3 linked regions of the Homo sapiens genome follow. The protein of the gene in region 1 purifies or fractionates together with the protein of each later gene. This does not show direct contact. Each region holds a gene or a part of one and is shown in the gene's direction. Other genes may lie near its edges.

The links. Proteins that work in one complex are often made in the same cells at the same time.
Region 2: the proteins of PHLDB1 (region 1) and PHAF1 purify together in Homo sapiens (co-immunoprecipitation; one large-scale study listed by IntAct). This does not show direct contact.
Region 3: the proteins of PHLDB1 (region 1) and PPP2R3A purify together in Homo sapiens (co-immunoprecipitation; one large-scale study listed by IntAct). This does not show direct contact.

The regions. Positions count from the first base shown.
Region 1 is NC_000011.10:118,627,277-118,631,614, forward strand, and holds part of PHLDB1 (pleckstrin homology-like domain family B member 1), read left to right. Parts: intron 1-28; coding exon 29-1,374; intron 1,375-2,771; exon of another isoform or gene 2,772-2,773; coding exon of another isoform or gene 2,774-2,806; intron 2,807-3,930; coding exon 3,931-4,203; intron 4,204-4,338.
Region 2 is NC_000016.10:67,144,022-67,147,940, forward strand, and holds part of PHAF1 (phagosome assembly factor 1), read left to right. Parts: intron 1-272; coding exon 273-355; intron 356-812; coding exon 813-856; intron 857-1,354; coding exon 1,355-1,398; intron 1,399-1,548; coding exon 1,549-1,607; intron 1,608-2,256; coding exon 2,257-2,329; intron 2,330-3,023; coding exon 3,024-3,110; 3' UTR 3,111-3,919. UniProt on the Homo sapiens protein: Plays a regulatory role in autophagic activity. In complex with BCAS3, associates with the autophagosome formation site during both non-selective and selective autophagy.
Region 3 is NC_000003.12:135,971,809-135,975,727, forward strand, and holds part of PPP2R3A (serine/threonine-protein phosphatase 2A regulatory subunit B'' subunit alpha), read left to right. Parts: intron 1-3,919. UniProt on the Homo sapiens protein: The B regulatory subunit might modulate substrate selectivity and catalytic activity, and might also direct the localization of the catalytic enzyme to a particular subcellular compartment.

The DNA.
Region 1 (4,338 bases):
AGTCAAAGACCTTTGCATTTCCCTCCAGCAGAATCAGAAAGTCTGGTAAATGGGAACCACACCCCACAGACTGCAACACGGGGACCCTCTGCCTGTGCCAGCCACAGTTCCCTGGTGAGCTCTATTGAGAAGGACCTGCAAGAGATCATGGACTCACTGGTGCTAGAGGAGCCTGGAGCTGCTGGCAAGAAGCCTGCCGCAACCTCTCCACTGTCACCGATGGCTAATGGTGGGCGCTACCTGCTGTCTCCCCCAACCAGCCCCGGCGCCATGTCTGTGGGCTCCAGCTATGAGAACACCTCTCCAGCCTTCTCTCCACTCTCTTCACCAGCCAGCAGTGGAAGCTGTGCCAGTCACTCACCCAGTGGGCAAGAGCCAGGACCTTCTGTGCCCCCGCTGGTACCTGCCCGTTCCTCCAGCTACCATCTGGCCCTACAGCCCCCACAGTCCCGCCCAAGTGGTGCTCGCTCCGAGAGTCCTCGGCTGAGCAGGAAAGGGGGCCATGAGAGGCCTCCCAGCCCTGGCCTCCGGGGTCTGCTGACAGACAGCCCTGCAGCTACTGTCTTGGCGGAGGCCCGGAGAGCCACTGAGAGCCCCCGGCTGGGTGGGCAGCTGCCTGTGGTGGCCATCAGCCTGAGTGAATACCCAGCTTCTGGTGCTCTCAGTCAACCCACCAGCATTCCTGGCAGCCCCAAGTTTCAGCCTCCAGTCCCTGCTCCCCGAAACAAGATTGGCACACTCCAGGACCGCCCTCCCAGCCCTTTCCGTGAGCCTCCAGGCAGTGAGCGGGTGCTAACAACCAGCCCCTCACGCCAACTGGTGGGCCGAACATTTTCAGATGGGTTAGCCACCCGTACCCTGCAGCCTCCTGAGAGTCCCCGCCTGGGCCGGCGGGGCCTGGACAGTATGCGAGAACTACCCCCCTTAAGTCCATCTCTGTCCCGGCGAGCTCTCTCCCCGCTGCCCACCCGGACCACCCCAGATCCCAAGCTAAACAGGGAAGTGGCAGAGAGTCCTCGGCCCCGGCGCTGGGCAGCCCATGGGGCTTCACCAGAGGACTTCTCCCTGACGCTGGGGGCACGGGGCCGTAGGACACGGAGCCCCTCACCCACACTGGGTGAGTCTCTGGCACCCCACAAGGGCAGCTTCAGTGGCAGGCTGAGCCCAGCCTACAGTCTGGGCTCTCTTACTGGGGCTTCACCCTGCCAGAGTCCCTGTGTCCAGAGGAAGCTCTCCAGCGGGGACTTGCGGGTGCCTGTCACAAGGGAGCGGAAAAATAGCATCACAGAGATCAGTGACAATGAGGACGACCTCCTGGAGTACCACCGGCGACAGCGCCAAGAGCGGCTCCGGGAGCAGGAGATGGAGAGGCTGGTGAGCGGGTGCCAGGGAGGCTTGCCACTGTCCATGGCAGAGTCTCTGCCAGGGCTCGAGCAGGCCAGCTGGCAGAGCAGGAGAGGCCCTCAAACAGGGCTTCGGCTTCTCAAGGTTCCCCACCTCCAGGATACACTTTAGTGATCAATATCTTATGGTTCTGGTGCCGTGAAGAAGAAATTCCTTTGAAATCTCTAAGACTTTATTTTAAATTCTTGCTAATTTTGCATTTATTCAACATAGCATTTGTTTTAATGTTAAATTAAATTTCACATTGTTTACCTGAGCACAGTGAAGCTCTAGGAAAACATACCACAGGTATGGTAAGACCTCGAACCTCCCAGTTTGAGAAGCAGTTGGTGATCATGAGTAGGCTGAAGCTCAGAGAGGGGAATGGCTTTGTCCAAGGTCACACAGCAAGTTCTGGCAGAGCTAGAATTGGAACCCAGGTCCCCTGTCTGACTCTTTCTGAGACTTGTTCTTTAGAAAAGTACCTTGTCCTTCTTTTTTGCTTGTCTTTGGCCTCTACAAGTGGGTGGGAGCTGCTCATCCTGGCCCAGGCAGTATCATCTAGGAGTGCAGGTGGCAGGGTAGAGGGACAGAGCAGGATAGGCAACCCTGGCCTGACCGTTAGCCAGCCTGTGTAATTGTGACTGTGTGTGTCCATGTGCATGCACGTGGGTGCATGCAGGGGCTGGGTGTGGCTCTAGGCAGCTGTCCTGGAGATGGCATCTGAGCTGGGTGGGGGCCAGGATTCCCCAGATAGCTCAGGGAGCTTAAGGGGCTCTGGCTGGTGTGTACACAGTCGAGCCCATGTACAGAAGAATGGATTCTGCCCTCTGTCCCTTACGAGCAGAACAGGGTTCTTTGGAAGGTGGGCAGGAACCCTGGGATTGGTTTGAGGAAGAGAACCAGAACTGATGAGAACCAGAACTGAAGCATCTGGAGATGCTTTTGGAAGAGGTTGGGACAGTTTTGGATGAGGGTATAGGATTGTGTGTTTGTGTTGGATGGGGGTGAGATGAGGCGGATCCCATCTTTTCCTTTGCTGCATCTTCTCTTCACTGTTTTTGCATTGGTCTAGACGGGAATGCATGGCCATTCTAAGCTGGGGTCTCATCCTGGAGAGGGGGCAGTGAGCCTGGCACAGGCAGAGTGGCAGGCACAGCCTCCCCCAACTCCTCCATCAGTTTTCCCACCCCCATTCCCACACATAAGCACACATCTTACCACTAGTCCTGACCTGCCTCACCTGCCACTTTAAGTCTTGGAGGCTGCCCGCCCTGCCCCTCCCACCTCAACCAGGCTGCTTATCTGGGTCCTGGGGCAGGGGTGGAGGCACTGGCCCAGCCTCCCAGGTGCCGAGGCTCTGTTCCGGTTTTTTTTTTTTTTTTTTGCCATGGAACTGGGCAAGCAACAGGAGGGAAGCTGGGTAAGTGTATGAGAACACCTCTCCAGCCTTCTCTCCACTTCCTGCGGTTTGGGTTCATGGCCAAACTGTAAGTGATGAGAGACACTTGAGGAGGTCTAGGGACCCTAGAGAGCCATGGAAGCCTCACAAACCAGGCTTCAGGCCTATAGGTAGGCCTGCGGGAAAAGGCAACAAAGACCAGGAATGTGATTGTGTCATCCCTCCTTTACCTCCTAGGCCCCTGAGAGGTGACTGTATCTGGGTGGGTGTGTATGTGGAGAGGGGTGGATGAAGTGGTAGGGCCATGGGAGTACTCACTCATGGGCCTGGGCATTCAAGGACTGGCAGCAGCCCATCCTGCTGATAAACAGCCAAGGGCTGCCTGAGGGTAACTTGGAGCTGAGGTGGGGACAAAGAGGGCCGTGTCCTTGGTCTACCTCTTCTCCATGTATGTCTGTGGTTGGGTGTCTGGTCCCTGTGGGCTCATGGGTCTGTTTTCCAGCACTGTCTGTCTGCATACATGCCCACCTGTCTGTATGCTAGACTGTGTTTATCTGTGAGTGTGCATCAGTGTGCATTTGTGCATGTCAGGGCTGGTGTCTCTGTACTTGCCTATTAATGCAGGGCCAGGGCACATGTTGTATCCTTGTGTGCCTGTGCATCAGTGCTGGTGTGTCAGTATGTGTCCTTGTGTCTGTAGATCTGTGTGTACCTGCGTCAGGACGAGCAACTGAGTTTATCTGTGTCTCATTGTGGTCTGTAGTCTGCTTAACAGTGTGTTTCTGTATGTGTTTAGTGTGTTACTGTGGGTCCATTTGGTGTGTTCCTGTGTGTCCTGGGGTAGACTGAAAAAAGAAAGGAACAGGAAGATGGAAGGGGCTGTCCCAGAAGTGGGCAGGAAGAACCAGGCTGTTATGCCATGTGGGCATGTGGCACAACAGCCTCGTTCTTCCTGCCCACTTCTGGGGCACCTTGTTTCCCTCTGCCTCCCCTAGGTCTTGGGGTCAGGCCTCTCCTGACTTGACACTGATGTCCTAGCCCCCTGTAACCCTGCTCTCCCTCCTGACAGGATACTGAACCTGGCTCTATCCCCACCAGGGCTCAGCTTCCTCCCCTTCATGTCCTGCTCTGTCCATCCTCCCCAGGAACGCCAGCGCCTGGAGACCATCCTGAACCTGTGTGCCGAATACAGCCGGGCTGATGGGGGACCTGAGGCTGGGGAGCTTCCCAGCATTGGGGAGGCCACCGCAGCATTGGCACTGGCAGGCCGGAGGCCCTCACGAGGCCTTGCAGGGGCCTCTGGGCGGAGCAGCGAGGAGCCTGGCGTTGCCACCCAACGCCTATGGGAGAGTATGGAGCGCTCAGATGAGGAAAATCTCAAGGAGGAGTGCAGCAGCACTGAGAGCACCCAGCAGGAGGTGAGATGGAGGGGTAGGCAAGACAAAGAGGCTGAAGTTGGACCTGCTGGGGGCAGAGGAGGCTGGTGTATCCAATGCCAAGGTCCAGTGAGGGGAAGGATCAAGTTTGGGAAGAGATTAGAGAGCAGAGGTGCA
Region 2 (3,919 bases), on another chromosome or scaffold:
AACCCAGGAGACAGAGGTTACAGTGAGCTGACACAGTGCCACTGCACTCCAGCCTCCATGACAGAGTGAGACTCCATCTCAAAAAAGAAGAAAGAAAATGTCTAAAAGCTGCTTGGCCTGTCCCCTGGACTGTTGTCTGGAAGAAAGGTGATGCCTGCAGGCATTCTTGCTGTGGAGTGCACTGGATGTCCCAAGTTGGACATGCCTTTGGAAAGGCCTCTGCCCTGCCTCAGTAACATTCCCTCCTTGAGTACCCTTGTTTTCTATCCCAGGACATCCTCTTTGATGCGAATACACACAAAGTGAAGAAGTTTGTTCTACACACCAATTACCCTGGGCATTATAATTTCAACATGTGAGTACACCTGTCTGTACCTCCCCTCTGTGAAGTGAGTTTTGGGCTGAAAACCCCAGGAAAGAGCTTTTGGCTTTGGGTGTTCACTAATTTATCTACACCTGAATTCTTGCTGTTTCATGGGAAGTGAATTTCCTGAGTGCTTGCTGTGTTCCTGGCACAGGGTCCAATGCCTTACATCTCTCTGTTTGAACCCATTTTACAAATAGGGAAATAAGTTCAGAAAGCTTGATGTCTTATCCAAGGTAATAGGCTCTCCAGAACCCAGGGCCAAGATCTTTTCTGTTCGACTTCCGTGCCTAAATCTGGCCTCCCCCAGTGAACACTGTCAGGCACTCAGAGCCAGGGCTTTGGGCAGGTGTGTTTGGTTCTGTTTCTCCTGGGGTGTGGGGTTGGAATATGGGAGTGGCCAGGCCTTCTAGGAGGCCCAGCCTTTACCCATTTGCCTTCTCTCTAGTTATCATCGCTGTGAGTTCAAGATCCCACTAGCCATAAAGAAAGGTGAGTAGTGAAAGCTCTCAGGGTAAGGGAGGGGTTTTAGAGTCTGTTTTCCACTATGAAAAGGGAGAAAGATCGAAGCAGTGGTTGGATGTGTGGAGCTTCTGCCCATGGCCTCAGTTCCTCTGGGGTGGGCTCATTGTTCTGGGGGCTGCAGTGTTCTTGGTCTGAGTCTCCTAGAGGCCCTTGAGGCCTCTTCCTATGACTGTGGGATTGCCGGCCTCTGGAGGGGAGAGTTTCTTATCTACAGATGATCATCCAGGGGGCCCCAGCCCATCCTTGTTGCCTGCCACCCACTGCCAATTGTTGTTGCTCACACCTGACTGACCTCCCTTCACCCCTCCATCCTCTTCCACCCTGGAACTCCAAAACAGCCTGTTAATCCTCCCCATGTACTCCAACCCCAGTGCAAAGGGACACCAGGTCTGGTTCCTACCTAGGGCTGGGGCCACAGGTAGGCTGGGCCAGCTACAAATCTGCCCCACTGTCTTCTCTTTTCAGAAAACGCAGATGGTCAGACAGAAACATGCACGACCTACAGCAAGGTGAGCACCTATCTTCCTACCTGGCATAGCCTGAGAATGAGGTGGACATGAGCCTGCAGGCAGTATGGGGCTGTGTCCTCTAGGCCAGCCATTGGTCACAGACATGTTCATGTCCCTACTAACCCCTGCTCCCCTCTATCCCTCTTGCAGTGGGACAACATCCAGGAGCTCCTGGGCCACCCTGTGGAGAAGCCTGTTGTCCTGCACAGGTGAGTGGGAGTTTGATGTCCCCGGCCACCCCACCTGACTCCTCAGAGCCCAGAAAGCCCAGGGAAGCCTGGCACAGTGGATGTTGCTTAAAAATTACAGAAGTTTCTGATATTGCCACAAGCATACTTCCTGCCCCACTCTGCACATTAGGACTGAGTCAACTGTTCTGTGTGTTCATCTTTGATAGAGAGAATGTCCCCAGGGGTAGCTCCCCTCTCCCAAGCCTACCTCTAGGTATGGGGGCCTTCTCACCCTCAGTTATTCAATAAGGAAGGAGGGCTTGGCTGGCTGGCCTGGGCTCTTTTTCCCTTTGAGCTTTGAGCTGCTGCCTGCTGAAGTCCACAGCCCCGTTCCTGGTTGCCATGCTGCCTGAGATTCTCTCACTCAAGAGGGCCCTCTTGACTCCTCGCCACCCTAGTCCAGTTCCACAGTAACTTTTTTGTCCTGTTGGGCTCTGTATGTATAATTCTGAGTTGAGTGAGACCATCCCTACCCCTAGGATCTTGCAGGCCTGTGTGGGAAACAGACAGACACTCACAGCCATGAGAGACTACTGGCCAGTATCCCATACCCCAGAAAAGACTGGATCCCTTGCTTTAAGGCCGTGGCCTCTGTCTGCCTCTCTAATTCTGAATTCTTTGGCCTCAGGTCTTCCTCCCCAAACAACACCAACCCATTTGGTTCCACATTCTGCTTTGGTCTTCAGCGAATGATCTTTGAGGTAAGCTGTGGAAGCCCTAGAAATAAACTGCCTGGGGGGTTGCTGGTCATGGCAGGGCCAGGTGAATGATGGAGGGAAATTGGGGAGGGCATCACTGCCATAGTGGGCAGATTCATCCTTCTTCAGCAACCGTGTCTGCTGCATACCTGGCCTCCCCACACTTAACAATGAAGGTTCAGAAATGATGTTGAGAAATCTGGGGTCACAGAGGCCGAAGCAGTGGTCTGTGTCCAACAAGATGGGAGGTAACGGATCCCAAGTTTCTATCTGACAACATGATTATAGCAGGGAAGGGAACCACAGGGCAAGTGGGGCCCAGCAGAGGGTGTTGGGGGCCCTCCAGTGGCATGTGAACAAATGCATTGTAGGGGAGTGAGTGGCTCTGGAGGCCCTGCTGACTTGGGAGAACAGCAAGCTGCCCTTGTTTTCCCTGTGGATGCAGTATCTCCAGCAGACACTTAACAGTTCCAGAAGGACTGGACACGTGGCCATGGTAAAGGCTGTGTGTAACCATTGAGAAACAGGCAGATCTCAGGCAGAGGGGGGCCTTTAGCATGAACCAGGGGAGGTTGAGGAGTCGGGAAACCCAGCCATTAGGTGCAGGTATGTCACACAACCTCCAGCCCTCATGCACAGGATCTGCCTACATCCCTTTACCTCTCCCCCTTGACCCACTGTCCTCTTCTCACACCAGGTCATGCAGAACAACCACATTGCCTCGGTGACCCTGTATGGCCCCCCCAGGCCTGGTAGCCACCTGAGAACAGCGGAACTCCCCTAGGGACACCACCACCCATGCCCCTCTGTCCCGTGGAACTGTGCATCACATCCTGCTCAGTGGGCCTCTGTACCACCCTGTGGGTTTTCTTGGACACCTGGCCAGTGCTGAAGGGCTGTTGTGATGTTCTGAGGTTGGGCTCAGGCTGGGTGCTCTGCCATGGGCTGAGTGGCCCAGATATTCTTCTGTCCATCTTTGGCCTGCTGGTGCCAGCAGGGGACACAGACTGCAAAGAGAAGCACAAAGTTTGAGCCTTGATTCCTGGACCCAGGAGCTCTCAACTAACAAGGAGGCAGGAGAGGTCAACCCTTGTCCCATGCACATTGGGAAGACTTGGGGCTCTTTCTGTGACTGAGGACACAGGCACCCAGGATAAGGACAAGGTCCTGCCTTTGGCTCCACATTGCCACATGACCCTTAAGGCAAGCAGGTAGCGTGTCCATAGTACTTGGTTGCGACATTTGCACTACATCCACTTTAGTTACTTGATGAGCTGGCTGTGGCCAGGGTGGCCCACCTGCCCTTCCCTGTTCCTTTCTTGCACGCGCTCCCTGCCTGGGCACACCAAACTGGTTGAAACACAGCTTTCTACCATCCAGGTACATGCCCAGGCCTGGTTCTCACCCCTGTTGGAGTCAGCTTTCAAGATTGCCTGTGCCCCTGCTCTGCCCCATCCTGGCTGGCAGGGCTGCATGTTTCCATCCTGTTTGCCTCTTTTATTTAATGCCAAAGTTTTAGCCAAAGACATCTTCCTACTTTTGTTGTGTTTCAGCATTCTGTTCTGCACTGTGGGCTGGCTCTCTGCCCCAACC
Region 3 (3,919 bases), on another chromosome or scaffold:
TTAGGTACTATGCCTGGCTGGCAGTATATAGAGGCAAAAGTCCATTACCAAGGTGGTCCAGAGCTCCTTTGGTTTGTGGAGGAAACAGGATAGCTGAGTGGGGAGAGGACTTGGAGTCAGTTCCTGAGTATAGTTCCTGGATTTGTCAAGGGTGAACTGTGTGATTTTTTTTAATTGAGGTAAAATTAACCATTTTAAAGTGTACAAATCAGTTACTTCAGTATGTACATTCACAATGTTGTGCAGCCATCACCGCTAATTCTGGAACATTTTCATCACCCCAAAAGGAAACCCTGTACCCATTAAGCAGTCACTCGCCATTCCCCTTTACCCCTACCGTCTGGCACCCGCCAATTTGCTTTCTGTCTATATGGATTTGCCTGTTCTGAAGATTTCATATAAATGGAATCATACAATATGTAACCTTTTGTGCCTGGCTTCTTTCATTCAGCACAATGTATACGAGGTTCACTCAGGTTGTAGCATGTATCAGTACTTCATTCTTTCTTTGGCTGAATAATACTCCATTGTATGGATATACTACGTTTTGTTTATCAGTTGACATTTAGATTGTTTACACCTTTTGGCTCTTATAAATAGTATTGCTAAGAGCATTCTTCTACAAGTTTTTGTTTAAATACCTGTTTTCAATTCTTTTGTGCATGTATCTAGGAATAGAATTGCTGGATTATGAAATAATTCTATGTTTAAAAAGTTTTTGAGGAACTCCCAGACTGTTTTCCACAGATGCTGCACACTTTTACATTTTTTCCAGCAATTTTTGAGAATTCTAGTTTCTCCACCTCCTCGCCAGCACTTTTGTTTTCTGGTTATAGCCATCCTAGTGGGTGTGAAGTGGTGCCTCATTGTGATTTTTATTTGTATTTCCCTAATGACTACTGACGTTGAGCATCTTTTCATGTGTTGGCCATTTGTGTATCTTTGGAGAAATGTCTGTTCAAGTCTTTTATCAATTTTTTAATTGGATTGTCTTTTGGTTGTTGAGTTTAAGAGTTCTTTACATATGTAAATATGGATACAAATCAGGTTTATGATTTGCAAATATTTCCTGTCTTACTGTGTGCTGTTTTTTCACTTTCTTGTTAGTGTTCTTTGCACAGAAGTTTTTAATTCGTGTGAAGTTGAATTTGTTTTTTCTTTGATTGTGTATGCTTTTGGCATTATATCTGACAATCTATCACCAAATCCAAGGTCCTGCCAGTTTACTCCTGTGTTTTCTTCTGGCAATATATAGTTTTAGTTCTTAACATTTAGCTATTTGGTGGATTTTGAGTTAATTATTGTATGTGAGGTAAGGATTCAACTTCATTCTTTTGCATGTGAATATCCAGTTATCCCAGCATAATTTGTTGAAAGAGCTGTGTGATTTATGCAAGTCTGAGACTCTTATTTGTAAAATGAAAGTGATAAAAACACTTGCCTCACAAAGTTGTTGTAAGATTAAATAGGAGAGGATATATGTATTACCACTTTGAAAAGTATATATCATTAAACAAATACTCATGATTATTATTGGCATGCCACATAGAGCTTTCATTTGGTCAAGGCCGCATAGATTGATGTCCTTCAGGGACCACCACACATCTTCCCTCTTAGTGCATAGTGAATCACGACGTAACTAAAGGACTGTGATCCATGTTGTATCCCTAGGTCCAAAGTCACAGGGCCCCAGATGCAAGAGGTAGTTGGAGAGATTGCAGCTATCCAGAATTGAAAGTATATTTTCTTGTAGGGCATGTGTTTGTTGAATTCTGTTGCTATTCCTCATATTGAGGAATGTCTATTCTAGGTGTTTAAAGGCCCTAAAGAGTTTTCAGGCATAGTAGGAAATTAAAAGGCAGTTTCTTCTTATTGGACCAAGAATCCTCATGTTTCACTCTATCAGCTTTTAAACTTCCAGAACTAAGACTGTTTAAATGGCTAGTGATCTCACTTAGTTCAGTCAACAAATACTTACTAATTTATCACTATGTGCCAGGCACTGTTCTAGATACCGGAGATATAGTGCCTTTTAATATAAGACCAAACTCTCTTGACTTTGCATTCCCCTCTCAATTTGTTTTCTACAGTTATCTAACTCACTGACTCCAGTTCCTTTTCCACCAGTCTCTCTTGAGTCCACATTAATCAGGCCCCTTCCCCCACTGAAGCACTCTTGTCAAGCTCACCACTGACCTTCATGTTGCTAGCTCTAGTGAATCAGTTCTCAGTCTTCCTCTTACTTGACCTTTCAGCAGCATTTTACACAGTTGATTATTCCTCTTTCTTTGAAACGCGTCCTTCATTTAGCTTTGCTGCATTCTCTGCATTTCCCTCTCACCTTATTGGAGGTTTAGTCTTTTTGCTAGTTCCTCATGATCTTCCTGACGCCTAAAAGTTGGAGCATTACATGGCTCATTAATACTCCATTCTTCCTTATTGACTCTTATTTCCTTGGCATTTCAGTCAGTCTCATGACTTTAAATACCATCTATACACCAACAACTACATGCTGACTACCAAATGTATATCTCCAAGTTAGGAAGGAAATAACTGCAGTAACGTCTTTTCCTTGCTTATGTCCTTCTCTGACGGCCTATTCCCAACTCAGCAGCCGGAGGAATCTTGTTAAAAGTAAGTTATCCACTCAGAGGCTTTACACTTTCCTACAAGGCCCCTACATAATCTGAACTCCTCTTTGTCTTTCTGACCTCATCTGTTACTGCTCTTCCCTGTGCTTGCTTTGTCCCAGTCAAAAAGGGGACTTTTTTCTTCTTCCAACAAGCCAGGTATGTTCCTTCCACAGGACCTTTGTTTCTCCTAGTAAAGCTTCCTCCCTCGTTCTCTGTCTCCCTTCCCTTTCAAACTCTGCTTCTCAGCACTTTGGGGTAAAAGGGAGGGGTATCCTCCCACCCCAACCCCCTAGACTGAGCACTAAGGCTATCCCCTTCCTCTTGTTTGTTTATTCATCTTACACTTTCATTTGAACAGAGTTCCTCCAGTTGAAAAAGCAGCTTGAAAACTGCTTCTCTGTGAGATTAGAAATAAAAAGCAGAGATTAGTGGTTGTGAATGGAAATGTCATTAAGGGCTTAGGAATCCTAGCAAGGGCCACTTATCCCTTCCATTTTGTAGATCGTAGGCATATTTCCTATTTTACAGCCTTGGGGATTGGGCCCCAGAATACTGCTGTTGTGAGTACTGATGTGCTCCTACCAATGCCAAGTCTTCCATCAAGCACTGTGGCCCAGCTGTTAGCATTTTGTCTTCTCTCAACATGATACATCTTGGCAGTCTTGGTATTCTTCTAGTAGAAGGTTGAGACCCCTTTCCCATGGTGGGCCCTCAATGAGTGGAGGCTCACTGGGTGCTGGCAGCAGTATTGAGATCCAAGTATTAAAGGCAATTGAGGGTTCTGTGTAATGAAGAGTGTGTTGATTCTACTGAGAAATGCCCCAGGCCTTAAAAGGGCAAACAGGCCACATCTAGTGACAGTCTATCTAGATAGCAAGTTTAGACACTTCATCAGGGGCAGTGTTTCTCAGCCTTTGTCTGCAAACCTACAGGCCTTTATGTGGGCCCTCTGGTGGGTTCATGTTATTAAAATCTGGAATGGTGTCTGTTCTGATTTGTTGTTTTAGAAGAAAAGGTATTATTTCTAAGAATTTTAGCCAAACAAGTATTATATAAATACAGTCTCTTTGCTTTCCTTTTCCTAGATGAGCTGATTTCCTAGATAATAAACAAGTAGATAAATTAATATAATTTCAGATAGTAGTAATAGTGCTATGAAGAAAATAAAGTGGAGGGCTTTTCCCCTGATGCTGAACACTTGGGTTGTTTCCAATTTTTCCGTGTTTTAAACATTACTGCAATGAACATCCTGGTACTTGGGCAAATGTGTGAATGTTTATATTGCA